Homo sapiens: one gene and its partners. The protein of the gene in region 4 interacts with the protein of the main gene of each other region in a pairwise test. Each region holds a gene or a part of one and is shown on either strand. Other genes may lie near its edges.

Region 1 (4,058 bases), on a different chromosome or scaffold from region 4:
GCTAGCAAAGGAGAAAACAAGGCTGCAGTGAGCTACGATCACACCATTGTATTCTAGCGTGGGTAACAGAGCAAGATCCTGTCTGAAAAACAAAAAAACAAAAAAACACAAAACCCGAACACACCCAAACCCCCCAAACTGGTCAAATTATACAAACGCGTAAACCAATTAGTTACCCACCCAAAATCTGAGGAAACAGAAATTGTTACTTAAGAAGGCCTGCTACTCAAGGTTTTACTTACTTACTTCCCCCACTATTGAATGCCCAAACTTCTCTGCGCATGCCTGTTGATATACTACCCAGCTTTCAAGCCTGTCAAAATGTGTCTCTTCTTCCATGAAATTCTTCCTGATTTTTCACAACTGCATATGCTACTTGCCAGTGTGATCTGTACAGCATTTTTTCACCTCTCTTGTTTTTCTGTATCTTAATTACATGTATACTTGCTTTTCCTTCCTATCAGACTATAAAGGCCATGAAAGCACAGTGATATAATATGGAAATAGAATGTGCTTTGTGGTCCAACACACCTGGGTTTGAATTCCAGTTCCCCTTCACTAATTCTGAGACCTGAGGCAAGTTTCTTAAATTCTTAGGGTTCTTGCTGCCACATTTTTGAATGGGGATAATAATAATTGTCTTCTTGTCATTCTGCTTAAATAGGAAGAGCTTAGCACAATGCCCAGCGTAAAGTGGGCACCCAATAAATAGTAGCTGTTACTATTAAAAATATATAAATCTTGTATTTCCATTTATATTACCTTCAGCATTACAGGCACTTGATAGGTATTTCTTAAGTTAGACTAATTAAAATCTAACACACTGTAGAACTTTCTCCCTGAAGCAGAAAGAACATGAGACTCAAACAAATGCCAACCACGGTCATCTACTCTTCCTTTCTTTTCAGACTGACTCCTTTTTTGATATAAAACACTAGGATTATTTTCTCTTTCTGGCCGTCTGAACTTTTCTATTTTTTGCATTCCTCTTATTCTGTAACTATAAAGCTCTTGTTAGTTTTTTAAAAAAATTATAAGTTTAAGTATACTCTTTTGCTTCCCCTGTGATTATTTCTAATCTACTACAAAGTTGTTCCATAAGCTGAAGGAGTATTCCTTCTGAGATCGCTAAAGAGATAATTTTCCTTCCTTCAGTAAACGCAAAAATACTTTATTTGTATTTCTTCAATCACACATATATTTTTAGCTTTTATAAATAAAATGGACTCTGTAGTCTTAGGATAATTTAAATATACATTAGATACTAGCGACTGAAGATATCAGAAAATACCTTTTATATATAAAGGATTTCTCGAAGGTGTTCAAAATTTACATATGCTTATTATTGATGTGTGATAGACCTCAGAGACATGCAAAACACCATCCTTGGCTCAGCAACAAGAACTCTGTTTCAAACTTTCAAGCATCACCAAAATCTGAACTATTGATGCTAAAGGTATTAATTGCAAATTGTTTGGGGAGAACAGAATACAATCTAATACGTACTGTTAATTTCAAATTGTTTGGGGAGAACAGAATACAATCTAATACTAAGAGAAAAGCCAACCAAATTCTTTGGGAAACTCTGTTCTTGATTTTAAGTACTTTTGTAAACATAGCATGTAATAAGTGATGAGACTATTTCTCAAAAACTCAAGTTCTAACAAATTTCCTCTTTTATAGTTCCTAGATGTCCTTTTCATATAATTCACAAAACTTTTATTCCCTCCTTCAAATCCCTGAATATTATCACATGAGCATTGTATGAGGGAAAAGCGTCTCAAGATTTTTATCTTATCTGTTTCTAAATCTCCTCTGGGCCTGTGCAACTCAGTTATGTCAGCTAGATTACAATGATCCCAACCTTGAAGATCCTGAGGAAGATTGCACAACATCCCTCAAGCATTTTTCTTACTGCCATAGTTTGTATTCTAAAATGGCAGAAACAGAGCTAAAATATTGATTTGTTTTTCTTTATCTAATCCATATCTTTCAGTCCTTTAGGACAACTGCGCTGTTTTCAAAAATTCAAATCGACTTTAACCACCACCCGAAGTGCAGCCTATAGGTAACTTCCCTAGATTATTATTAAACTCCTGAGAAGGGTGAGAGCCAAAGTATCAAGAGTGCCAAGGAGAAATGCAGAATCTCACAGGAAAGCAGAATTTTTTTTAAAAAGTTCCTGTAAGAGAATGGTGCCTTGAAACAGAAACTTAAACTGTGATGAGTTCTCCAAAGGTCCGTGAGAAAAAAGGATAGGTGAGAAACAGAGTTAAGAGTCGGTGACAGGGCAAAGGGCACAGAGGCATTTCTCAACTGCAGAGATGGGAGAACCCTGGAGGTTGGCCACCTCCCTTTTCATCCCATGGTTGATCGAACTCCCTCTACATATCCCAGACTAGGATCGCCCGGCCTGTCCTTATTTTAGAAGAAGTCACCTCTCCCACCCCCTTCTCCCAATGCCCCCTTTCAAGCACGTTGTCACCCACCTCCAAGGACCGTGCCCAGGAAGATGCATTTCTTTTTGTGGCGTTTCAGAAAATTCCATACAGACCTCAGCATCTTTAGGCCCTAGGGGTGTGGGCTGACTAGGGGTGAGGGACTGCTTCACCAGGAAACTGTTTCTTCGTCACCTGGCCCAGATGACCCAGCAAGAGCGCCGTCGTCCCGTTCTGTGCTCTCCCGAAATCACAAACGTGACTTTCCGCAGAGACTGTCACCGGAGCGGCAAGGGGGCGTGGACTACAGCAAAGCAGCTACGCTTTCTGCCGCTGCCGCCGCGCAGCCGCCGCCGCTCACTGGTCCGACAAGCCCAGGTCCGTTCAGAAATAGCTCCCGAGTGCCTTTTCATTAGACTACCCCCGGAAACGGGGTCCCGGGCCCGCCGCGTTCCGCTGCCCGCGCTCCTCCTCTGCCGCGGGCTCTGTAGCTGAGTGGTGGCTGGGTATGGAGGCGAAGGCGGCACCCAAGCCAGCTGCAAGCGGCGCGTGCTCGGTGTCGGCAGAGGAGACCGAAAAGTGGATGGAGGAGGCGATGCACATGGTGAGGAGCCCGGGAGGTAGATGCTGCGGGGTGGGACCTTTCTCCAGCCCTCAACCCGACCCCGGCATTTGAGCAAACGTTCTTTCTCGTCACCATAATTTTTATGGCAGTCAGATGTTCTGGGTGAACAACTGGCTTTACTGCCTCGAAACTTTCTGTAGCCCATTCTCACAGTGGCTCTGGGCGAAGGAAGGGGAGGAAATACACAAATTATTTGTTTCATTGCGGTGGAGTATGCTGCAGACTTAACATTCTGTCGCCGGCTGGCACGTGCTGCCTCCCTTTCCTTTCTGTGGTCACACACTCTCCAATCTACAAAGTCACATTATTTGAGGTTTTGGCCCTTGGAACATGTCCAGCAGAAGGAAGGAAACTGAGAACGTTTCTGGTAGAGAGCAGTATGGAAACAAGTCCCTGTACAATCGGCGTCTCGCATTCATTCATTATTTCCTCTGCCCTTTTACTTCCTTCCCTCACTCCCTTCAGGACTGCGAAATAAAGGGGGCTTTCAACAGAATGCTGTGTGCTAGCGAGCTTCTTAACTGGGAAAAAAAGTTTGTTTGTAAATATATGTATTTACATTTTAATAACTACATACAGCCACGTGCCACACAATGACCTGTCGGTAAAGGTCGTTATCCTGGAGCATTAAATCTACTCACCTTAGCCCTATTGTCCCATCCAAGTACTAACCAGGCCTGACCCTGCTTAGCTTCCGAGATCGGGGGACATTCAGGGTGGTATGGAGGTAGACAACCCTAGTTTCTATGTAGACTTCTGGGCTAAACACTTTCGCTACCTTTTAGGTTGACCCTGGGCTAGCACATGTAAATACATTTACATACGTTTACAAACAAACTTTTATCCCAGTTAAGAAGCTCGCTAGCACTTTTCAGCTCCATTATAATCTTATAGGACCACATATACAGCGGTGGTGCTATAGGATTATAATGAAGCTGAAAAGTTCCTGTTGCCCAGTGACATGTAGCCCTCCTAACAAGTACTTTTTTTCCTTT
Region 2 (3,500 bases), on a different chromosome or scaffold from region 4:
CCGAGTAGTTGGGATTATAGACATGTACCACCACGCCCGGCTAATTTTTGTATTTTTAGCAGAGATGTGGTTTCACCATGTTGGCCAGGCTGGTCTCGAATTCCTGACCTCAAATGATCCACCCACCTCGGCCTCCCGAAGTTCTGGGATTACAGGCATGAGCCACCATGTCCGGCCTAAGAAAAATTTTTCAATGAAGCAAGCATAATAATTTTCATTTTATAGAGAGGTATAGGGAAAATTCTACCTCAAAAGAAAAAAATATGCCCAGGATGATGATTTAGATATTGATGGTAATAACTTCCACTTCTTTAAGAAATTCTGAGAAATGAATCATTTAGAACATCTGCAGTCTAAGCTCTTCAGATTATGTGTTTACATTATAAAAGTGTTAAAATACATTTATAAGGATGCTACTGAATTCCCTTATGTTAAGTACCAATTTTAAAATAATATATTAGTAAAAATGCTTTTAACAGAAGGTACTAATTTTTCTGAACTGGAATATTCTCACTACCACCCCTATTTTATCTAGCAACAAGCCTTTTGAAATTTTTCTCCAAAACAGATCTTGAATCTGTCCTCATCCTACCCCTCTCCTCTCCAGTGCCACCACCGTGGTCCAGGCCACCATCCTCTCTTGCCTGTATTACTGAAATGGCCTCCTACTAGATTGCCCCTGGCTTTCTCTCTTAGCTTTCTGACCAATTCACCACATAATAGCCACAACAGTCTTCTTCAATTGTAAATCACAGCACATATTCCCCAGCTTAAAGCCCTTCCCATCACATATTCTCAGCTTAAAGTGCTGAGGATAAAAATCTACATTCCTCACCTACAGTTTCCCTGCTGCTCTTGCAATCTCACCCTGAGCCACTCTACTGCCATAGAGGCCTTCTTTCAGTCCCTAGGATACACCAAATTCTTAGTACATTGATATGGTTTGGCTGTGTCCCCATCCAAATCTCACCTTGAATTGTAATAATCCCCACAAGTCAAGGGCAGGGCCAGGTGGAGATAACTAAATCATGGGGGTGGTTTCCCCTATACTGTTCTTGTGGTAGTGAATAAGTCTCATGAGATCTGATGGTTTTTTTTTTTTTTTTTTTTTTTTTTTTTTTTTTTTTTGAGACGGAGTCTCGCTCTGTCGCCCAGGCCGGACTGCGGACTGCAGTGGCGCAATCTCGGCTCACTGCAAGCTCCGCTTCCCGGGTTCACGCCATTCTCCTGCCTCAGCCTCCCGAGTAGCTGGGACTACAGGCGCCCGCCACCGCGCCCGGCTAATTTTTTGTATTTTTAGTAGAGACGGGGTTTCACCTTGTTAGCCAGGATGGTCTCGATCTCCTGACCTCATGATCCACCCGCCTCGGCCTCCCAAAGTGCTGGGATTACAGGCGTGAGCCACCGCGCCCAACCGATCTGATGGTTTTATAGGAGGAGTTCCCCCTGCACTTGTCCTTGCTGCCGCCATGTGAAGAAGGACATGTTTGCTTCCCCTTCCACCATGATTGTAAGTTTCCTGAGGCCCCCCAGCCATGCTGAAATGTGAGTCAATTAAACCTCTTTCCTTTATAAATTACCCAGTCTCAGGCAGTCCTTTAGAGCAGCATGAGAATGGACTAACACACACATCATGCTCCCCCTGCCTGGAATGCACTTTCGTCCACTCTGCCCCACTAGGGCCTTACCCTCCTTTGCATCTTGATTTAAATATTCCTTCTCAAAGAAGCCCACCTCCAATCATGCTATCTAAGAAGAGCCCCACCATGCCCCTCTCCAGTAAATAATTTCCTTTATAGTTCTTTTTTCAATTTGTAATTACCTATTTATTTTGCTTGTTTACCTGTTCATTCTCTCTTCCACTAGCTCCATAAGGGCAGGGATTATGACTTTTATTTACCACTGCATGCCCAGGTCCTCCCACAGTGTGGATGCTTAGTAAATATTTGAATGGATAAATAACTGAATGAAATAAAAAACAGAAGTTTGAGAGTGCTTCAAAAAAGCTAAATCATTCATTCCTCCTGAGTGAACTAAAGGAATTAACCTCTGACTTTGTAAAGGATAATCCCTGCTGGGGCACCAAACCAATCAACTTGAATGAGAAGGAAGCAAACTTATGCTTTCCTGAGGTCTTTAAGGAACTTGTCTCCACATCTGTGTTTTCTGAGACATTATGTTACCTAAGAAATTACAAATGCAAACTTCATTCTAAACCAATGACAGCCAGCCTAGTTAAGCAGAATATCAAACAAATGAAAAAATGGGGGCCAGGCACAATGGTTCATGCCTATAATCCCAGCACTTTGGAAGGCCAAGGTGGGAGGATCGCTTGAGTCCAGGACTTTGAGACAAGCCTGGAAAACATGGTGAGACCCCATCTTCACACAAAAAAATTTTAAATTAGCTGGACAAGGTGGTGTATGTAGTCTCAGCTACTTGGGCAGCTGAGGCAGGAGGACTGCTTGAACCTAGGAGGTCGAGGGTATAGAGACCCATGGTGCACCACGGTACTCCAACCTGGGTGACAGAGGGAGATCCTGTCTCAAAAAAAGAAAAGAAAAAAAACAGATAGGGAATATTCTGGTATACCAACTAACTGCTTTATTGCTTTATTAACATTGTTTTAAATCAAGAGACTACATGTATTCGAATGCTGTTTGACTAAATGCGAAGAGAACTCCAGCACTCACCCTCAGAATTGACTGTACCGTCTGCAGGGGATAGGTCACCGTGGTGGCAATCGCTTTGGCTACTGCACCAATGATGAACACATCCAAGGAAGAAAGCTGGAAAGCAAAGGAAGAACAAACCATATCAATCAAGTCAACAAGAAGGTGTCAGACAGAATTATTTTACTGCTTTCAAAATCAAGGATTACCTTCATCCGTTTCTTTAAAAGCTGCCGTTTTAAACCTTCATAAAACATGAACTGGATGGCAGGATTGAAGACCAACAGCAATGAGGGAAATGTGCCATTCCATAAAGCCGAGATTCCTTCATCGCGAATGATCTGATGAAAAGCATCTAAGCAAGAAATCAGGGACTTTTGAAAAGCATGATCACAATCCCCCAACTAGAGAAGACAACATGAATTCTGTTGAAATGTACCCAGAACACAAACCATACTGGTTCTATAAAGATTTCCTTCTTGCAGCCGGTTGCAATGGCTCACGCCTGTAGTCCCAGCACTTTGGGAGGCCGAGGCGGGTGGATCACGAGGTCAGGAGTTTGAGACCAGCCCAGCCAGCATGGTGAAACCCTGTCTCTACTAAAAATACAAAAATTAGCTAGGTGTGGCGGTGCATACCTGTAATCTCAGCTACTTGGGGGGCTGAGGCAGGAGAATTGCTTGAACCCGGGAGGCAGAGGTTGCAGTGAGCCAAGATTGTGCCACTGCACTCCAGCCTGGGTGACAGAGCAAGACTCCATTTCCAAAAAAAAAAAAAAAAAGATTTCTTTCTTGCAATGATAGTTTGGGGTCAAGTTTATCGGTTAAT
Region 3 (3,500 bases), on a different chromosome or scaffold from region 4:
TTATCTTAAGCTTTATAGAGGCTTAAAAATTTAAACTCCTTTTTAAGACGGATGTTTTTGGTAATGGCTTTACTTAGTAAGTGCTATATGCAAATAAAAGATTTAGGAAGAGGATGGGCACAGTGGTTCACACCTGTAATCTCAACACTTTGGGATGCTGAGGCAGGAGGATAACGAGCCCAGGAATTCAAGACCAACCTGGGCCACAAAGTGAGACCCTGTCTCTACAAAAAATTAAAACATTAGGCAGGCATGGTGGTACATGCCTTGCAGTTCCAGCTACTCAGGACCCAGAGGCAGGAGGATCATTTGAGCCCAGGAGGCTGCAGCAGTGGGCTATGGTTACACACTCCAGCCTGGTGACAGTAAGACTCTGTCTCCAAAAAAAAGGATAAGAACAAAAAAAGTATTGGGATACACAAATCTAAATTTGAGATAATCCTCATTTGTGACAAATATTCCACCTTATTAGTGACTATTTTTCTTTTTTGGACAACTGTTTATTGGCTTTAACATAAAATTTGTCCAAATGGTGCAAAAATACACATCTATATAAATTAAATCTACTTAAATATAAAGTACTTGAGAAGAATATGGGTCTTTATAACAGAAAATCTATTTTTAAAATTATTTTTTTCCTTAGGTTACTCACAATTTAAAGAATGCACCAAAACATGAAGTATAACATTCACAAATGTAATAAAATTTATATACCAAAATAACAATACAGAATTCAGAAAGTTTACAGAGGAAGCCATATGGTATTCAGATGGATTTTGTTGGAATTTTAACTGTTGTAAATTTTTAGACGTTTGAGGGAAAAAAATCACTTTTTAAATATAACCGTCAATATCTTATGTGTGCCCCCATTTCCCTGTCACCAATTAGCGGCATCATGGTGTGCATTAGCTTCAACTTTGTATCTATACACAATAGTTACATATGACCTCATGCACTGCATGGATACTGCAGTCACTCTCCAATTATCTTTTTGTAGTCTGTGTGAAGCAGTGATCACTTTCAGCTCAGATAGCAATAAACTGTCTAAGGATAACATAAAATTGTCAATAACTCTAACCTAGGTAACCTAGTTCCAGTCCCAAAATGGAACAAACAAGGATGCATCTGATTTTACACTCTGCTTCTATACACCAATATCCAATTTATATTGAGGGTCAAAAAGTAAATTAATGATCTTCAAAACTGTTATTCTTGATTAAAAATTGTCCAGACATAAAGGTGAAAAAGTTCAAATAGCAAAACTTTATATAATCAGAAAATATTCATGTAACTTTTAAATTGGACAATGCTTTCAAATAAGAAGCAAATTTACATATAACTTTTGAAGTATTCCCTGCATAATTTGGTATCCACTCTGCTAAATGGGTCTTTAAACCAAGTCCAACTGGAGAAATCACCCAATTACCTGGTCTAAGATAACACTGATAAAAAAAGAAGCTTTCTCCAACAGCATATAAAAGGTATTTTACTTTCCTAAATTCACTAGCATTGTCCAATTGAGAACTAAAAATGCAGAAAAGTCATTTTTTGTTCAGACTACAAATAACCTGGAAGAGGGTAGTAAAGACTTAACTAATCCAACTATAGCCATACATTTTTGATCTGGGCTCAAATAATCATTCAAAGTTTTTTTTGCGGCAGGGGGGAAATCACAATAAACTGAGTGTTTTGTTAGGAAAAACTATAAGCAGTGTTGTTATTTCAGAAAACAAAAAGAAATACCTAATAGCTTTGTTGTTTTAATAATAAAAGAACATGTCATTTTTGCTGTTAACTGTCATCCTCCACTTACCAGAAACAAAAATTATGTAGTTCATAAAAATGCACAGGTACAGGCTTCAGTTACCTTTGATATGTAAATTAATGCACTTTATTGATATAGCTGCAAATTTAGAAAGATTATAAGCATTATAATTTAAACATACATAATGCTATTTTGATATTTTTAAAGATCCACTTTTTTGAAAAATCAATGTGACTAATAATTTAAGTCTTGACTAACAACATATCAAACCCATATAGTTTTGGCAATGCATTAGATAAGAGTTTCTGCTAGATGAAAATAAGCTATCTCGTGAAATTTGGATCTGAACGCCATAGTAACACACACATATATCTCTCACTGTAAATTATTTACACTCCATCTGAATCACCTTTAACAAGCCTTAAGCATGACAGAAATATGTGCACTAGCTGGGCACAATGGCTCATGCCTGTAATCCCAGCACTCTAGGAGGCCAACGCAGGTGAAGAACTTGAACTCAGGAGTTCAAGACCAGCCTGAGCAACATGGTGAAACACCATCATTACCAAAAATATAAAAAAAGAGCCAGGCGTGGTGGCACATGCCTGTGGTCCCAGCTACTCAGGAGGCTCAGGTGGGAGGATCACTTGAGCCTGGGAGGCGGAAGTTGCAGTGAGCCAAGATCATGCCACTGCATTTCAACTTGGGTGACACAGTGAGACCCCATCTCAAAAAGAAAAGAAAAGAGAGAAAAGAAAAAAAAAGAAAGATTTGAATGAACAAGAATTACACTTAATGATGCAGTTATGAGCATATTCAATTCTTGAGTTCCAAGACTTTCAAAGTGATTTTGAATAAGCAAACATCTCCATCAAAGTTAAATATTTAATTTCTAGTTCATCTGCAGATAAATATTTCCTGAAAAAGAATCATTACATTCTAAAAATAAGATCGTTGGAGCTGTGAAACAAGAAAAAAATGTCTTGGCTTGAAAACAAAACAAAACAAAACAAAAAACTTGTATTATGACTTTGAATCTTTCTTTAATCTTGATTTTCCAAATTTTAATTTACTTGGAAGTAAGAGAAAAGAAATTGAAGGAGATTATTTTAACAAGTATTTTAACATGTAAATACAGGAAAAAGTTTATCTCAATTTCAGAAGCTGAAGAATGAGCAATTATTTTAAGAAACTGTTCACATAGATCTCAGCATCCTCTTGAGAATCTGATTTCACAAAAACTAGTTCTACAATGGCAGAAAGTTTCAATGTTTTCTAGGATTTTAATGCTTTAGGCGAATATATACCTTTACCATACCTTTTGGAGGCTGCAGAAGCCTGGAATTCTCAAACAAATGTTTCTTTTTGATAGGTAAGATGACTGTGTCTTTCAGATCCGTAATGACATCATCTAAACCTGCTATATCACTCCAAGTAACCTGGCAAAAGTTAAGGTCAACATGAATTTTACTACAAATGTACACTCACTAAAGTAAAAAGAACGCTCCCAAAATTACAAATGTTAATCTGATGATTATACATAAATAAGTTAAAATCATATATTAACATAAGTAAAGACTTTTCCAAGCAGTAATGAAATAAACTGCTATGAAACTGGAAAAAGGAATTTAATAGTCAACTATCTACTATTAAAAATCTGTAAGTCAGGTACTCAAAAATCTGCAAGGGTCTAATAAGCTAAATTCATTCCACTTGTAAGGAGAAAATACTCTGC
Region 4 (3,500 bases):
GCTCCTTAGAGCCGCAGTGCTGAGTACACATGTGTGCTGTCTGCGTACACACAGAACAAAATCCAATAGCAGTTTAAAAACCATCACGATAGGGTCTGGGTGCCCGGAATTCAGTTCTGATGGGCAGTGAGACTGTTCACCACCCGCCTTCCCTCCTTTGCAGGGGAAAGACGCCTCAGCCTTCGCCGCCAAGATGAGGGGGGGCTTCTGGCCGGCGCTGAGGATGAACTGGCGGGTGTGGACGCCACTACAGTTCATCAACATCAACTACGTCCCTCTGAAGGTGAGGGCCACGGGGCTCAGCCTCTGCTAACATTACTTTGTCAGCCTTTTCCTTCCTTCCTTCCTTCCTCTTTCCTCCCCCCCTCCCTCCCCTCTTCTTTTCTCTTCTCTTCTTTCTTTGGTAGTTTTCCGCTAGACTTAGTTTCATCCGTGTCTAGACTCCTCAACTACCCTTGGATTTTGCCCATGACCCTGAATCATTGCTAGTTCGGGATTCAGGAAGCAACAGAGAAGGGTGTCCCGAGTGGTCGTCTTTGCCTCTTCTGTTCGTTCAGCAAATTCTCATTAAAAGCCCCCATGCCAGGGATGCCTATGAGTTTTCTAGCCTTTGAAACATTCCCAGTCCCAGGAATGTACATGCAGGCAACTTGAATCTATGCTCCTGGGTTGCAGTCCTCAAACTTGGCCCAAATAAACTCTAGTTATACTTAGAAAAAGAAGGCCGTCACAGTAGCTCACACCTGTAATCCCATCACTATGGAAGGCTGAGGTGGGCAAATCACTTGAAGCCAGGAGTTCGAGACCAGCCTGGCCAACATAGCGAAACCCCATCTCTACTAAAAATACAAAAATTAGCCAGGCATGGTGGCAGGTGCCTGTAGTCCCAGCTACTCAGGTGGCTGAGGCACAAGAATCACTTGAATCCGGGAGACGGAGGTTGGAGTGAGCTGAGATTGTGCCACTGCACTCTAGCCTGGGCAACAGAGTAAGACCCTGTCTCAAAAAATAAATAAAATGTTAAAAAGAAACAAAGCATTCGTGGTCCCTGGGCTCATGAATTACAGCTGAGCCTGAAGGCAGGCACTGTGCGGCCATGGGTCCTGCCGCTGGCCTGGAAGAGCTGCCTCACCTGCAGCCATGGCAGCCACACCTGGGCAAGGGGTGGGCCCATCCAGGTGCAGAGTGAAGGCCTTCTGGGTAAGCTGAGCCTTTCCGCTATCCTGTGCATGAAGGAGCTGCTGTGGGGGCTGAGTCAAAGGTGTCAGATTGGGGCTGGGCTGGTGGTGTGGAGGCTGGAGCTCCAGGCTCTGCCACTGGGATCAACTGTCTTTATGCACAGCCAGGGTCCCCAGGACCACTCCCACACTGGGAGGATGGGGTGCAGCACCCCCTGCAGCATGGCAGGATACCCCCAGATGCTACAGGAGGAGGCCTGGCAGAGCCTGCAGGGGCCACGTGCTTCCCTCCCCCAGAAGGTATGCCGCCCATCAGGGTTTTTTACTGGTACTCTGGGCGGGCATCTCTGCCTGCTGCCCCAAAGCTCCAGACCCCTAGAAAGACAGCAGCTGTGTGGAGCCTGCATTGTTGGTGCAAACAGTCCAGGCACAGGGCAGGTGGCCCTTCTGGGAAAGGTGGGTGCCGTCCCAGCCCAGGCTGCTGCTAGGGAGGACCTGAACAGGCCTGCAGTGGCTGGACCTCAGCTGCAGAGGGCCTTCCTGCATTAGCACCGGCTCTGAGCCCTGCCCAGGAGGGAGGAAAGGACCAGGGTGACCCCCGAGGGAGAGGAGGGAGGCGGCCCAGTGTGTGCACACTGCACACACCACAAACACACCAAGAAGCAGCAGGAAACCAGGGGTGCACACAGACAGGACAAAGAGGCAGTTCACCCTTAGCCAAAGTTGCCAGGAGTTAAAGCAAAATAAAAAAATTTCCTTTGGCTTTAACAGTGGCCCTTCCCAGAGCAATTTCAGCTCTATGGGGCTGAAGCCAGATTGCCTTGAAGAGTGGGTGGGAATTATTTTAAAAATCACAAGTCTAGAACATGCTCTCAAAGTCTGTGGGGGCCAGGCATGGTGGCTCATGCCTGTAATCCCAGAACTTTGAGAGGCTGAGGCAGAAGGATCACTCAAAGCCAGGAGTTTGAGACCAGTCTGGGCAACATAGTGAGACCCCATCTCTATTTTATAAAAATGAATTTTAAAAAGTTTGAGAGAAGGTGAGAAGTGATGGAAGAAGGCTGGGTGGCAGAGGGGGTTCTGACACTCAGAGATGCGGCCATGGTGGGTGCAGACGTGAAGCTGCTTGTGGGATGGGCAAACACGCATGTCCAGAAAGAGCAGCTCTGCGGGGTCCCCTAAGGAGTCAGGGTGGATGTGAGCCCCCAGCACACTCACAGTGGTGCTTGGACAGAGGCCCTGCCCTCTGTGATGAGAGAGGAGAGAGAAAGTGACAGCTGAGCGGACAGGAGAGTGGGACATCCTGCCTCAAGCCCCCACGTGCCTCTCTGGAGGGCCAGGGGCTGGGACTGAGGGCAGAGGAAGTCAGGCGGGCATTTTAAGGGGATACAGGAGGGGCAAGTTTGGCCATGTGGAGGATGGGAGAGCATGCTGACTGCAGAGACAAAGACCTCTGGGCAGAGGGGGCTGGGGCTTGTCCAGCTGTGGTCAGCATCTGGGGAAGTGAGAAGGCAGGAAGGATAAAGGATTTTCCAGGGAGTGTGACTGAAGAACAGTAGGCTAAGGAAGCTACAGCCATGGGCCACTGGTTCTCGGGAATTTAGAGAAGGAAGCAGAGACAACTGAGAAGACAGACTGGCCGGGAACACGGAGGATCTGGGATGGAAGAGGGGAGAGCTGGGAAGCCGCGCCTCTGAGTAGCGTGGGGGCAGAGTCGCCATCCTAGGTGGGTGCAGGTGTATGCGGAAGCAGCATTCATTCAGCAAGCGTTTCCTGAGCAGTGACTGTGCGCCATGCTGCTAGACTCGGAGACGCGGCGATTAACCAGACACATGGGCTGCTACTTTCATAGCACCACGTGCCAGGGAGAGACTCAGCACTGGGCCAGAGGATTCTGGGGAAGGGTGAAGCTGCTGAGTCACCAAAGCAGGGCAGTGGGATGGTGATGGGTTAGAGGAGGGAAGGTCTGGGGCCCCTCCGCTGTTCGTCAGCTGTGTCCCCTGAGGAGGGTGCAGCCACCTGCATGATGGCTGGTCCTGGAGTGAGAGAGGCTGAACCAGGAGCTAAGGTGTGCGGTGAAGGGGGCAAAAGGAGAGTGACTTGGCTTTGGGATTCCTGGGCCGCTGTAGCCTGTGAACACTGTAACTAGGGGACCGTTTTTCTTCTCCACTCCTCTCTGCTAGGGGCCTAGCACAGCGTTTGGTACGAACAAAGGCTCAGTAAATGCAGTAATGGATGGGTGGTTGGACCAGCTGACCAACAAACGGGTAAACAAATGAACTGGGTGACTGAGGCTGGATAACTGGCCACGGCCTCCCGCTG
Region 5 (3,500 bases), on a different chromosome or scaffold from region 4:
TAACAGCTCAGTAGGATAAACTCACAGATGATCTTAGCCACTATTGCGGGGAGGCCCGTTCTGTTCCTCGCAGCTCAACTCCATCCTAATGGCTCATGCTGGCCGGCCACAGGCCCTGGGCATTCAGGCTGCCACAGAGGCGGGAGGGGCCACGTGCTCCCAGGCTGAGGGCAGCAGGAGCAAGAGGCAGGGCCGGGCCAGGGGCTGCTCCACTGCCATTGCCACCTGTGTCCCCGCTTCCTCCACAGGCAGGTGACAACACCCCGGCCATTTCCTGCAGGAGCCACTTCTTCTCATGTTGCCACCGAGGGAGGGCTTGGTGCCCGTGCCCTTGAACCGTGAAGGGGAGCCCCAGCAAGGCGAGGTCCTTGCCCAGGGCCATCTCGCACCCAGCAGTGCAGGCTGGAAGCAGAACCCAGAGGCTCAGAATTCAAAGACAGAACTGAACACTCCATCTACTGTGTCCCTGTAGCTGCAGCCCCCTCTCCTCCTCCGCTCTTCCGGCCCGACAGACACTGTGGACAAGCAGTATTCCTTGATAAGCCCAGGACAAGACAACAGCTCAGTCTGGCCTCCTTTTCAGTGAACTCATCTCTGAATCCACCTGACTCTGCTGGCCCCAGCCCCCTCCAAGCGTCTGCACAAACCTCTTGACAGTAGCCATCACTGCACACATGTGCCTGCCCCTCCCAGGCTGCCCCTGCCCACCACCCCATGGTCCTTCCAAGAGCGTCTGATCCTGCTCAGGGAAAGCCTAGGCTCCCGCCTGGTCCCGAGGGCCCTCTGTGAGCCAGCCTCTCGCACCACCAAGCCTTCGGAACGCACTCCGCCCTGCTGCCCCTGGCTTCCGGACGGGGTAACCACTCAGCATTCTGCAGGGCTCAGCTCAGACCTCTTTTCTCTGGGAGAGGGTATCCTGGGTCCCCCAGTGAGGTGCACATCCCTGCTAGGTGCCCCCTTCCCTAGAGCACCTGGGGCCATCTGTGTGGTGTTGGTCCTCCCTGGTAGCAGCCTCTGCCCCGCCCCGTGGCACCTGGCACTTTAGACTCTGGATGTTGAGGTAATCTTCACTCCCTGGAGGCCAAGGGAGAGGCCAGGGTGGGACAAAGGGTGGCTGCCAGCCCCAGGCCTCCTACCTCCCTCCCGCTGCAGGATGTGGTGCAGGTGCACGACGTCCAGGATGGCTTCCAGGTCCTGCTCCGAGTAGCCCTTCCTTTGCATGTCCTCCACTGAGTCCGGGTAGATCACCTGGTCACGCAGGGAGCCCACAGACATGTAGGGCCTGTGGGAAAGCTGGGTGTCCACGGAGGGAAGGGCCGGCTCTGCCTCCCCCAAGATACTCTGCGCCTCCCAGGCAGTGTCCACATGCCACGCTCACACGCATCCACACGCTCACATCGCCGCCCGTGCACACACCCCACACAGATCCAAAACAGGGCAGTGGATCGGGCGGGTTTGGAGGGAGCAGGAACCACAGCCCGTCTCTGGCTCTGGGGACAGTGCCTCAGTGTCCTCTCCTGAGGTGCTGACTCTTCACCACTTCCTGGGCCTCTGCAGGAAGCCATGTGTGAGCGCACAGGCAGGAAGAGGTGGAGGAGAGGCGCACGGGCTTCCTTACCTCTGCGGGATGTAGAACATGCGCTGGGGTGGGGGCTTGTAGAGCACACCACCGTACGTGGGCCAGAGCCCACCCAGGATCCGGAACAGGGAGCTCTTGCCGCAGCCATTGGGGCCTGTGATGAGCAGATGCATGCCTTCCTCCACCTGCAGGGGCAACAGCCGCTGACGCCAGAGAGCGCAGGCCCCTTCCCGTACCCTATGGCCTCCTGACCAGCCTTGAGAGGCTCCCAATGCCCGAGGCCAGCACGCAGGCCATTCTTGATCTCTTGATAAGGGACAGCAGGGCCTGGGGGATGGGGTCCAGCGTCCACAGCCCTAGCTAAATTTGGCTCTCGCTAAATGCCTGGCCCAGGACACAGGAATGGACAAGCCCCGGCCCAGTCCTCAGGCCCTGACACGCCTGGAGAACATGGTGCCAGCACAAGAGGAAGGGCCTATTCTGCCACAGCTGAATGAGTAGGTGTGTTCCAACACAGCCAGCGCCGTCCTCAGTCCCATCCGACTCCCACTTCACCAGGAATCCAAGTGCAGGGTCAACTGTCAGCCCCCTTTAAGGAACTGCCCTGAAAGGCACTTTGTTTTCAAGAGACGAGACCTCACTCTGTTGCCCAGGCTGGAGTGCAGCGGTATGATCACAGCTCACCGCAGTCTCCAACTCCTGGGCTCAAGTGATCCTCCCACCTCAGCCTCCTGAGTAGCTGGGCCTACAGATGCACGCCACCATGCCTGGCTAATTTTTAAATGTTGTTTTAGAGACAGGGTCTTGCTATGTTACTCAGGCTGGTCTCAAACTCTTGGCCTCAAGCGACTCTCTCACCTTGGCCTCCTGAGTCACTGGGGACAAAAGGCAGTTTCTTTCTTTTCTTTTTGAGACGGGGCCTTGCTCTGTTGCCCAGGCTGGAGTGCAGTGGTGGGATCATGGCTCACTGCAGGCTCAACCTCCTGGGCTCAAGAGACCCTCTCACTTTAGCCTTTTTTTTCAAGTGGCTAGAACTACAGGCACCGCCACCACACTTGGCTTATTTGTGTATTTTTAAAAATTTCTGTAGAGACGGGGTTTGCCATGTTGCCCAGGCTGGTCTTGAACTCCTGGGCTTAAGCGATCTGCCCACCTCGGCCTCCCAAAGTGCTGGGATGACAGGCATGAGCGACCACGCCCGGCCCAAAAAGCACTTTCTTTATGTCTCTAGACTGACAGTACAGACCCCACTGCCTCCCCAGGTGCCAGAGTGGCCCAGAGATGCCACAGTGGCCCCTGGGCTCTGCATCATGGACCTCAGGCTCCTCAATTCACTGACTCCATGGTCCTCGCTGGAGCTAGGAAATGCCTACTTTGGGAAAATGCCGGCCAGGCTGGAGGCGGGCTGTGTGCAGGGAGGAGGCCAGGGGCCTGGAGTCAGTGAAGTTCACGGTAACAACAACAATGCTACACGGGGCTCCTGGGAAGACTTGAGGCCGTGGTCTTTAGCTTACCTCAGGCAGTGTCATGGGTGGAACTCTGTCCTCTGAAATTCCTATGTGGGAACCCTAATCCCCACTACCTCGGAGTGTGAGCTTATTTGGAAACAGGGTCATTGCGGACGTGATGAGTTAGGTCTGCATGAGGTCATTCTGCAGAGGGGTGGGCCCTAATGCAGTGTGACCTGTGTCCTGACAGAAAGGGGAGACGGAGACACGGACACACCCAGAGGGAGAGCGCCGTGTGGAGACAGAGGCTGAGGCCGACCTGCCGTGGCAGAAGCCAGGGAAGCCCGCAGATGGGCAGCAGAGCAGAAGCTGGGACAGAGGCCCCGAGCGGAGGCACCTTCTCGGTCCTTGGCAGAAGCCCGCCCTGCCTGCGCCTTCCTCTCGGACTGCTATTCCCCGAGCCGGGAGAGAGG
Region 6 (3,500 bases), on a different chromosome or scaffold from region 4:
TGAACACTTATCTGCCTCATTAAATTTTATTCCAAAAACACTTAAATGGTTACATAAATTCCCTAGTTAGGTTATGAAATAATTCACTCAACCATTCTCCACTTTTGGATAGGTAGGATGAGTTCAAATTTTTTCTGTTACAAACAAAATTGCAGTGAATGGTTTTGTATGTAAATACTCGTCCAAATTTCCCCTGATCTCTTTAAGACAGATTCCAAAAAGAATCATTACTGGATTAAAGGATAACAACTGGGTCAAGGTTCCCAAGCTATTTATCAGAAGGCTGAAACAGTGTTATATTGCAGAGTATAAAAGATACTATTGTGTTACCCTAGCCTTGTAGGAATGGAATATTACAAAATTTTACATTTGCTAATATAATGGGCAAGTTTTGTTTTGAATAATAAATAGGAAATTGTCTAGCTCATTGCCCTTTAGCATCCTGGACCTCCACTGCAGCAGAATTCCCATAGCTGAACCTGCATCAAGCATTGTTGGGGATTAAAAGGGAAACCGAATTAGAGCTATTTGCCAAGTTAAACCCCAAAGAGGGCACTGAGGTGCCTGATGCTGTTTTCAAGACTTCTATTGTTGTATCTAAAGGAGGTAAATTTTGAGATCAGTCTGGGCAACATAGTGAGATGCCCATCTCTACAGAAAAACTTTTTAAATTAGTCAGGCGGCCGGGCACAGCTCACGCCTGTAATCCCAGCACTTTGGGAGGCCGAGGTGGGTGGATCACCTGAGATCAGGAGTTCGAGACCAGCCTGGCCAACATGGTAAAACCCCATCTCTACTAAAAATACAAAAATTAGCCAGGCATGGTGGTGGGTGCCTATAATCCCAGCTACTCAGGAGGCTGAGGCAGGAGAATCACTTGAACCCGGGAGGCAGAGGTTGCAGTGAGCCGAGATTGCACCACCGCACACCAGCCTGGGCGACAGAGCGCGAGACTCCATCTCAAAAATAAGTAAGTAAATCAATAAAGGTGAGGGAAGAAAAAAGGTAATCCACACCTCTTCCTCTTCTAACATTAGAGAATTCGTCAGTTTCTCCGCCTCGCTTCTCCCGGTGTGGTGCTCCGCTGTTATTCCTGCCATCTTCTCCTCCATGCTTGACTTCACCTTTTCCTTCAACTGCAACCACCTGCATATTCCCAATGTTGCCATTTCCAGGAGGTACTTGAATATCTTCACGAAATCCAGAATTTTCCATGGGTTGACTGGAATGACCACCCAAGTAATACTGAAATGGTCCATTGTTGGACGTAAAGCTGTCTAAAGACTACAAATTAGAAATGACACTTAGTTAAAAGCTAGAAATGTGAATTATACACCACAAAGTTTTTACAGCAATAGGAGAAATACTGTTTTCCTAAAATGTTCTTTCATGTTATTATTGGAAATATTCTTTTTCTAAAAAATGTCTTCAATTCATATGCTGCTTCCTACCTGCAGGGAAGAAATAGGACAAGAATGATTTGTCCATGAACAGAGTCAAGAAGCTTGGGTAGTAAATTGTTTTGTTTGTTTGTTTGTTTTTGAGATGGAGTCTCGCTCTGTCACCAGGCTGGAGTTCACTGGCACGATCTCGGCTCACTGCAACCTCCACCTCCCGGGTTCAAGCAATTCTCCTTCCTCAGCCTCCCGAGTAGCTGGGATTACAGGCACGCACCGCCATGCCTGGTTAATTTTTGTATTTTTAGGAAAGATGGGGTTTCACCATGTTGGCCAGGATGGTCTCAATCTCCTGGCCTCATGATCCGCCCACCTCGGCCTCCCAAACTGCTGGGATTACAGGAGTGAGACCCCACGCCCGCCCAGTGAGTTGTTTTTGTGAGTCAGTTATTAAAGAAACATCTACATTTCTATGCTTACCTTATTCTTAGAGATTACTACCTAAATTTTTTTTTAAGTCAAAGCAAGCTTATTTAGAAAGTAAAGGAATAAAGAATGGCTACTGTGTAGGCAGAACCTAAATGTGTTTTTAAAAGAACCCACCTAAGACATCGATGGATGACAACCTATAATTAACTGGACTTGATGAAGGTGGTGATGAGGTGAGTTGTATCTTATCTAAGGTTTCCTTCAGGAAGGGACATCTGAGTTAGGGTATAAAGGGTATATAAGAGTCCTCAGTGAAGAGGGAGGATGTACAAGTGGGGGTGGGGGTAGGAAGGGACTTGACACATTAGAGAAACAGAGAGAAGGCCAGGGTGGGTGGTGAGCAACGACCAAATAGGAGAGTGGTGTTAACAGAGGCCAGCAAGGGGCCGGCATGGTGGCTCACACCTGTAATCCCAGCAGTTTGGGAGGCCAGGGTAGGCAGATCACTTGAGGCTAGGAGTATGGGACCAGCCTGGCCAACATGACGAGACCCCGTCTTTACTAAAAATACAAAAATTAGCCAGTCAGGGCGGCACATGCCTGTAGTCCCAGCTACTTGGAAGGCTGAGGCACAAGAATCACTTGAACCCAGGAGGTGGAGGTTGCAGTGAGCCCAGATTGTGCCACTGCACTCCAGAAGCCAGGTCAGACAGCCCCTTGAGCTTTAGTCCATCAACTGATTGAGAGAGAAAACAGGAACAAAACTAGAATGTAGCAGCTGGATATTTACTGAGATTAATCTCTATCTGGTCCCTTTCATCAACCTTCCCCAAATATCTCTTTTTTAAAAAGAAAAAAATAAAAGGGAATCTGAGTTTTTCATCCTTTTCATTTTTCACTAATTTCACTCATTCTCAGTTTGGCCTCCTTATCATTATTCTTCCAATTTATGCTGCTTTTTTTTTTTTTTTTTGAGACAAGTTCTGGCTTTATAGCCCAGGCTGGAGTGCAGTGGTGCGATCTTGGCTCATTGCAACCACTGCCTCCCAGGCTCAAGCCATCCTCCCTGAGTAGCTACCATGCCTGGCTAAGTTTTTTATTTTTTTGTAGAGACGGGGTTTTGCCATGTTGCTCACGCGGCTCTGAAACTTGTGAGCTCAAGTGATCCACCTGCCTCGGCCTCCCACAGTGTTGGGATTATAGGTGTCAGCCACCATGACCAGCCTACGCCACTCCATTTGTGTTTGACCTTAAGTAAAAGATATTTTATTCATGTGTTTTTAAAATTTGAGAAAAGGGGTAGATTTAATTGCATTATGAAATGAGAAAAGGAGAAAAACACAAAAAGTTAAAATCATTTCAGGGAGGCAAAAGATAAATGATTTTCTATAAGACACACTGAACTGTATTAGAACAGGGTAGGTAGGTAGGAAACAGAATGGGGAGAGGATATAAAGAGGCCAAACAGAAATATAGCTGTCAAAACCACCTTTGTCAGATTAATAAGTAGAATACATAAGGAGCGTAAACAACTCAATAGGAAAAAAATCTAATAACCTGATTAAAACTGGGCAAAAGATCTGAATAGACATTTCTCAAAAGACCTACAAATGGCCAACAGGTATATGAAAAGGTGCTCAACATCACTGATCATCAGCGAAATGCAAATCAAAA
Region 7 (3,907 bases), on a different chromosome or scaffold from region 4:
ATCTTCAGCTCTTCTGGGTCTCCAGCATAACCACTGCAGGTCCTGGGTTTCCCAGCCCCTATAATTGCATGAGCCAATTCCTTATAACTCTCAAGATACCACCTATTGGTTCTGTTTCTCTGGAGAACCCTAGTACAGTCCCCTTTTTGTAGATGAGAAACTGAAGTTAAGCCTAGGCTGTTTATGAAAAAACAACCACCCATATGATTTAGGCTTTTTAAAGAAATTATCCACATCTACTGCATTCCAGTTACTATGTGTGAGTGAAGTTCTTCTTGTATGAATTTTAATGCTGTGGGGCCATATAACCAAATATAATTACAGTTATGGCCTAAATAGTTGAGCCACATTCATTAGAGCAGGAGGTAAGATAATTTCTATCAATCACCCAGGAAAAGACTCTTGGCGATATTCATTATCTGTTCAATATTCCCCAACACTGAGCACTTTCTATATGCCAAACACTGTGCTAATGGCTTTTATTCCTCACAACAAACCTCTGAAGTTAAATTTTTATTATCCTCATTTTACAAATGAAGAATCAGAAACATAGAAACATTAACTCTCATTCCTGATCACATAACTGGTAAGAGCTAGAGCTGGGCTATGCTTCAGAGAGTCTGGCTCCAGAGCAGAGCTCAACTGGATCTGGAAGGGCAAACCTTTCATAGAGAGGCTTGTCCTTGTTCTCTTAGGTTAGACTTCAGAGTTCCAATATCCAGGATGCTGCTCCAGGATGGTGGGTGTTACAGATGGAGGTCATGATGTTGAGGGAGGCTGGGAGCCCAGAGGATGAGACACAAGAAAGATCTCTTCATTTCCAGGCACCCCATTGCTGGGGTGAGCCCATGAAGTCCAGAGAGCAAACGATATCTTACCATTAGATTATCTAGATTCAGGTACTTGTCATATGTATTTAACTTTGGTTAGCCCCAAGTACCTTACATACATTCACCCATGTGTCTCAGATGCTGCAGGGGATTAAGGGAAGTTGAGGGTGAACCATTTTGGCCACTGGATCACAAACAAATTGGCTCGCCTTTAAGGTTTACATGGCTGCAGCAGCCGCAATCAAGAGATCACCAAAGAGGAGGTGAATCATGGGACAAATTCCCCTGGGAGGGGTGGAGCTTTAAACCAACATCAGGCAGATGCAAAGAACTCAGCAGAAACAGGAGGCAGTGAGAACAGGAGGCAGTGAGAACAAGAGGCAGTGAGCACTGGGAGCGGGAGTCAGTGACAGACTGTGCAGAGAACACTGAGGCTGGGAACTCAGGAAAACTCACCTCCTGTAAACAGGAGGAAAGGCCAGCCTGTGGCCTCGTGACATCCAAGGCTCTGTCACAGATGGGTAACCACCTTCCTCCGCTACCAGCTCCTAAAAGAACACCTAAAGAGGCGGGTGCGATGGCTCATGCCTGTAATCCCAACGCTTTGGAAGGCTGAGGCAGGTGGACCACCTGAGGTTGGGAGTTCGAGACCAGCCAGACCAACATGGAGAAACCCCGTCTCTACTAAAAATACAAAAATTAGCCAGGCGTGGTGGTGCATGCCTGTAATCCCAGCTACTCAGGAGGCTAAGGCAGGAGAATCGCTTGAACCTGGGAGGTGGAAGTTGTGGTGAGCCGAGATCGCGCCATTGCACTCCAGCATGGGCGACAGAGCGAAAAAAAGAAAAAAAAGAGCACCTAAAGGTCTGTGTGGGATAGACTAGGAAAGATGAAGCCGTCGGTCATCCCCTCCTGCTCTTGGTATTGTGTAGATGATTAACTGTTCCCCTTTCTGGGCATTTTCCTCCTAACCAACACTGAAACAACTGGTTGAATAGTCTCATTTTTTCCAATCACTTCACATATTGCTATGAGTATTGCAAAGTACCCAATCTTTCTGGACCACGTCCTGGCAGTATGTTGGAAGAGCAGAAAAACTGATCTCTATCAATGTTGTAGATCCACTTTCAAAAACCAGCCCAAGAGAAAAACCCAGAAAGAAAACAACTACTATCGTCTTAACTGTTCTACTCAGCCCTTGGTGATTTCACAGCACTTTCATATGCAATCTGTTTACAGCTATGTTATTCACAATAGCAAAAAGTTGGTGGTGGTGCATGTGGGTGTTGACCGGGCTGGGCCAAGAAGCCTCCTCCGGGCAGGCTGCCAGGCTCTCACTGTGGCTGTGGCTCTGTATGGGACAGAGACGGGGCTGAGCTGGCCGGGCTGTGGGCAGGGTGGAGGGCCACCAGCCAAAGGACAGTTGGAGGAATCGAGCTTCATGCTGTCCTTCTCTTCTGCCTCTGATACAGAATTTGATGTTGTGGTTGGATATATAGTACACATTATCATGGATGACATGTTCCGGTTATTATAGAGAAATTTTGTGGACAAGTATTACCAGGAGTTTGAAGACATGGAAGAAAATCAACTCACCTACATGCCTGCTTTTTGATAAATAATATTTGTACATATTATTGAAGTAGATGTGACATTTCATTACATGCATAGAATGTGTAGTGATCAACTCAGGGTATCCAGGATACCCATGACCTTGAGTATTTCTCATTTCTATGTGTTGAGAACATTTCAAATCCTTTATTCCGTCTATTTTGAAACACCCAATACAGTGTTAACAATGGTCACCCTATTCTGCTATCAAGCATTAGAACTCACTCCTTCTATCTATGTTTGTGTCCATCAAGCCACCTCTTCATCCCACATACACACCCTGCCCAGCCTCTAGTAATTGTCATTCTACTCTCTACCTCCATGAGATTAACTTTTACATGCCTTTTTTTTTTTTTTTTTTTTGAGATGCAGTCGCACACTGTCGCCCAGGCTGGAGTGCAATAGCACGATCGCACGATCTCGGCTCACTGCCACCTCTGCCTCCTGGGTTCAAGCAATTCTCCTGCCTCAGCCTCCTGAGTATCTGGGATTACAGGCACACGCCACCATGCCCAGCTAATTTTTTGTATTTTTAGTAGAGATGGGGTTTCACCGTGTTGGCCAGGCTGGTCTCGAACTCCTGACCTCGTGATTCGCCCGCCTCAGCCTCCTAAAGTACTGCGATTACAGGTGTGAGCCACTGCGCCCGGCTACATGCCTATTTTTAATAAATGTATTTACTTGACAGAAAAGTATCCTGAAGGACACCTACTGGAGCGGATTGCTGGATTTAGCACATGGCCTTCACAATATTAGGCATGATAAAGATGAAGGGGCTGGTGCCCTTCATCAGACAGAATTTGATGCTGTGGTTGGATATGTAGCAGACATTACCATGGATGACATGTTCTGGTTATTATAGAGAAATTCTGTGTACAAGTACTACCAGGAGTACTTGGTGCCATAGGCCGGGGACTAGACCTAAGCGATAGTTTAGCGGTGACTTTGTTGAGCAAATCATCTTCTATGCCAGCTTCCCCGAACAAGCTGTGGCACTAGATCCCACCTCCAGGCAAGGAAGAGGATCATCCTGGATGTCACCAGCCCACTGGCTTGGAGAGGCTGCAGCTATTGAGGATAGAACAATACATCTTGGAAAGACTGACTGTTCTGCAACTCATCATTCATGTTAAGTATTAAGGGTCAAAAACAAATGGCTTGATGTGTTTCTCCTGAAACACCTTCTTGTGTTTAGTAACCCTAGTACTCCTCCCATCTCTCAGGTGCTTTTGAATCAGACTGCTGTGGGGCAAACCCATGCCCAGCATTCCACCTGAGGCCCTTCTGCCAGCATACATTCAGTGTGTCAACAGTGTGGAATAACCCACTATCATGAGTCCTCTTTGTCCCAGCAGCTTTGGCATGAACTTTTTTTTCTTTTAAATGAAGAGACGCACATTTTAGTGATTTTCCTTGTGAAATTGCAAAGACTAGAAGAAAGTTAGACACTGACATCTCCATACCTG

The links.
Region 1: the proteins of PXMP2 (region 4) and PEX3 come close enough for resonance energy transfer, tested with the Homo sapiens proteins (one large-scale study listed by BioGRID).
Region 2: the proteins of PXMP2 (region 4) and SLC25A17 come close enough for resonance energy transfer, tested with the Homo sapiens proteins (one large-scale study listed by BioGRID).
Region 3: the proteins of PXMP2 (region 4) and ATAD1 come close enough for resonance energy transfer, tested with the Homo sapiens proteins (one large-scale study listed by BioGRID).
Region 5: the proteins of PXMP2 (region 4) and ABCD1 come close enough for resonance energy transfer, tested with the Homo sapiens proteins (one large-scale study listed by BioGRID).
Region 6: the proteins of PXMP2 (region 4) and ACBD5 come close enough for resonance energy transfer, tested with the Homo sapiens proteins (one large-scale study listed by BioGRID).
Region 7: the proteins of PXMP2 (region 4) and PEX26 come close enough for resonance energy transfer, tested with the Homo sapiens proteins (one large-scale study listed by BioGRID).

Annotation. Positions count from the first base shown.
Region 1 is NC_000006.12:143,449,547-143,453,604, reverse strand, and holds the start of PEX3 (peroxisomal biogenesis factor 3), read right to left. Parts: upstream 2,801-4,058; 5' UTR 2,563-2,800; coding exon 2,490-2,562; intron 1-2,489. Other genes in the region: ADAT2 (tRNA-specific adenosine deaminase 2), read left to right, coding at 2,947-3,042. UniProt on the Homo sapiens protein: Involved in peroxisome biosynthesis and integrity. Assembles membrane vesicles before the matrix proteins are translocated. As a docking factor for PEX19, is necessary for the import of peroxisomal membrane proteins in the peroxisomes.
Region 2 is NC_000022.11:40,774,347-40,777,846, forward strand, and holds part of SLC25A17 (peroxisomal membrane protein PMP34), read right to left. Parts: intron 3,028-3,500; coding exon 2,882-3,027; intron 2,790-2,881; coding exon 2,694-2,789; intron 1-2,693.
Region 3 is NC_000010.11:87,787,227-87,790,726, forward strand, and holds part of ATAD1 (outer mitochondrial transmembrane helix translocase), read right to left. Parts: intron 3,205-3,500; coding exon 3,084-3,204; intron 1,904-3,083; exon of another isoform or gene 1,839-1,903; coding exon of another isoform or gene 1,814-1,838; intron 1-1,813. UniProt on the Homo sapiens protein: Outer mitochondrial translocase required to remove mislocalized tail-anchored transmembrane proteins on mitochondria.
Region 4 is NC_000012.12:132,701,087-132,704,586, forward strand, and holds part of PXMP2 (peroxisomal membrane protein 2), read left to right. Parts: intron 1-163; coding exon 164-283; intron 284-3,500. UniProt on the Homo sapiens protein: Seems to be involved in pore-forming activity and may contribute to the unspecific permeability of the peroxisomal membrane.
Region 5 is NC_000023.11:153,738,356-153,741,855, reverse strand, and holds part of ABCD1 (ATP-binding cassette sub-family D member 1), read right to left. Parts: exon of another isoform or gene 3,278-3,500; intron 1,765-3,277; coding exon 1,619-1,764; intron 1,283-1,618; coding exon 1,137-1,282; intron 1-1,136. UniProt on the Homo sapiens protein: ATP-dependent transporter of the ATP-binding cassette (ABC) family involved in the transport of very long chain fatty acid (VLCFA)-CoA from the cytosol to the peroxisome lumen.
Region 6 is NC_000010.11:27,209,798-27,213,297, forward strand, and holds part of ACBD5 (acyl-CoA-binding domain-containing protein 5), read right to left. Parts: intron 1,285-3,500; coding exon 1,017-1,284; intron 1-1,016. UniProt on the Homo sapiens protein: Acyl-CoA binding protein which acts as the peroxisome receptor for pexophagy but is dispensable for aggrephagy and nonselective autophagy. Binds medium- and long-chain acyl-CoA esters.
Region 7 is NC_000022.11:18,101,990-18,105,896, reverse strand, and holds the end of PEX26 (peroxisome assembly protein 26), read right to left. Parts: 3' UTR 501-3,907; downstream 1-500. UniProt on the Homo sapiens protein: Peroxisomal docking factor that anchors PEX1 and PEX6 to peroxisome membranes. PEX26 is therefore required for the formation of the PEX1-PEX6 AAA ATPase complex, a complex that mediates the extraction of the PEX5 receptor from peroxisomal membrane.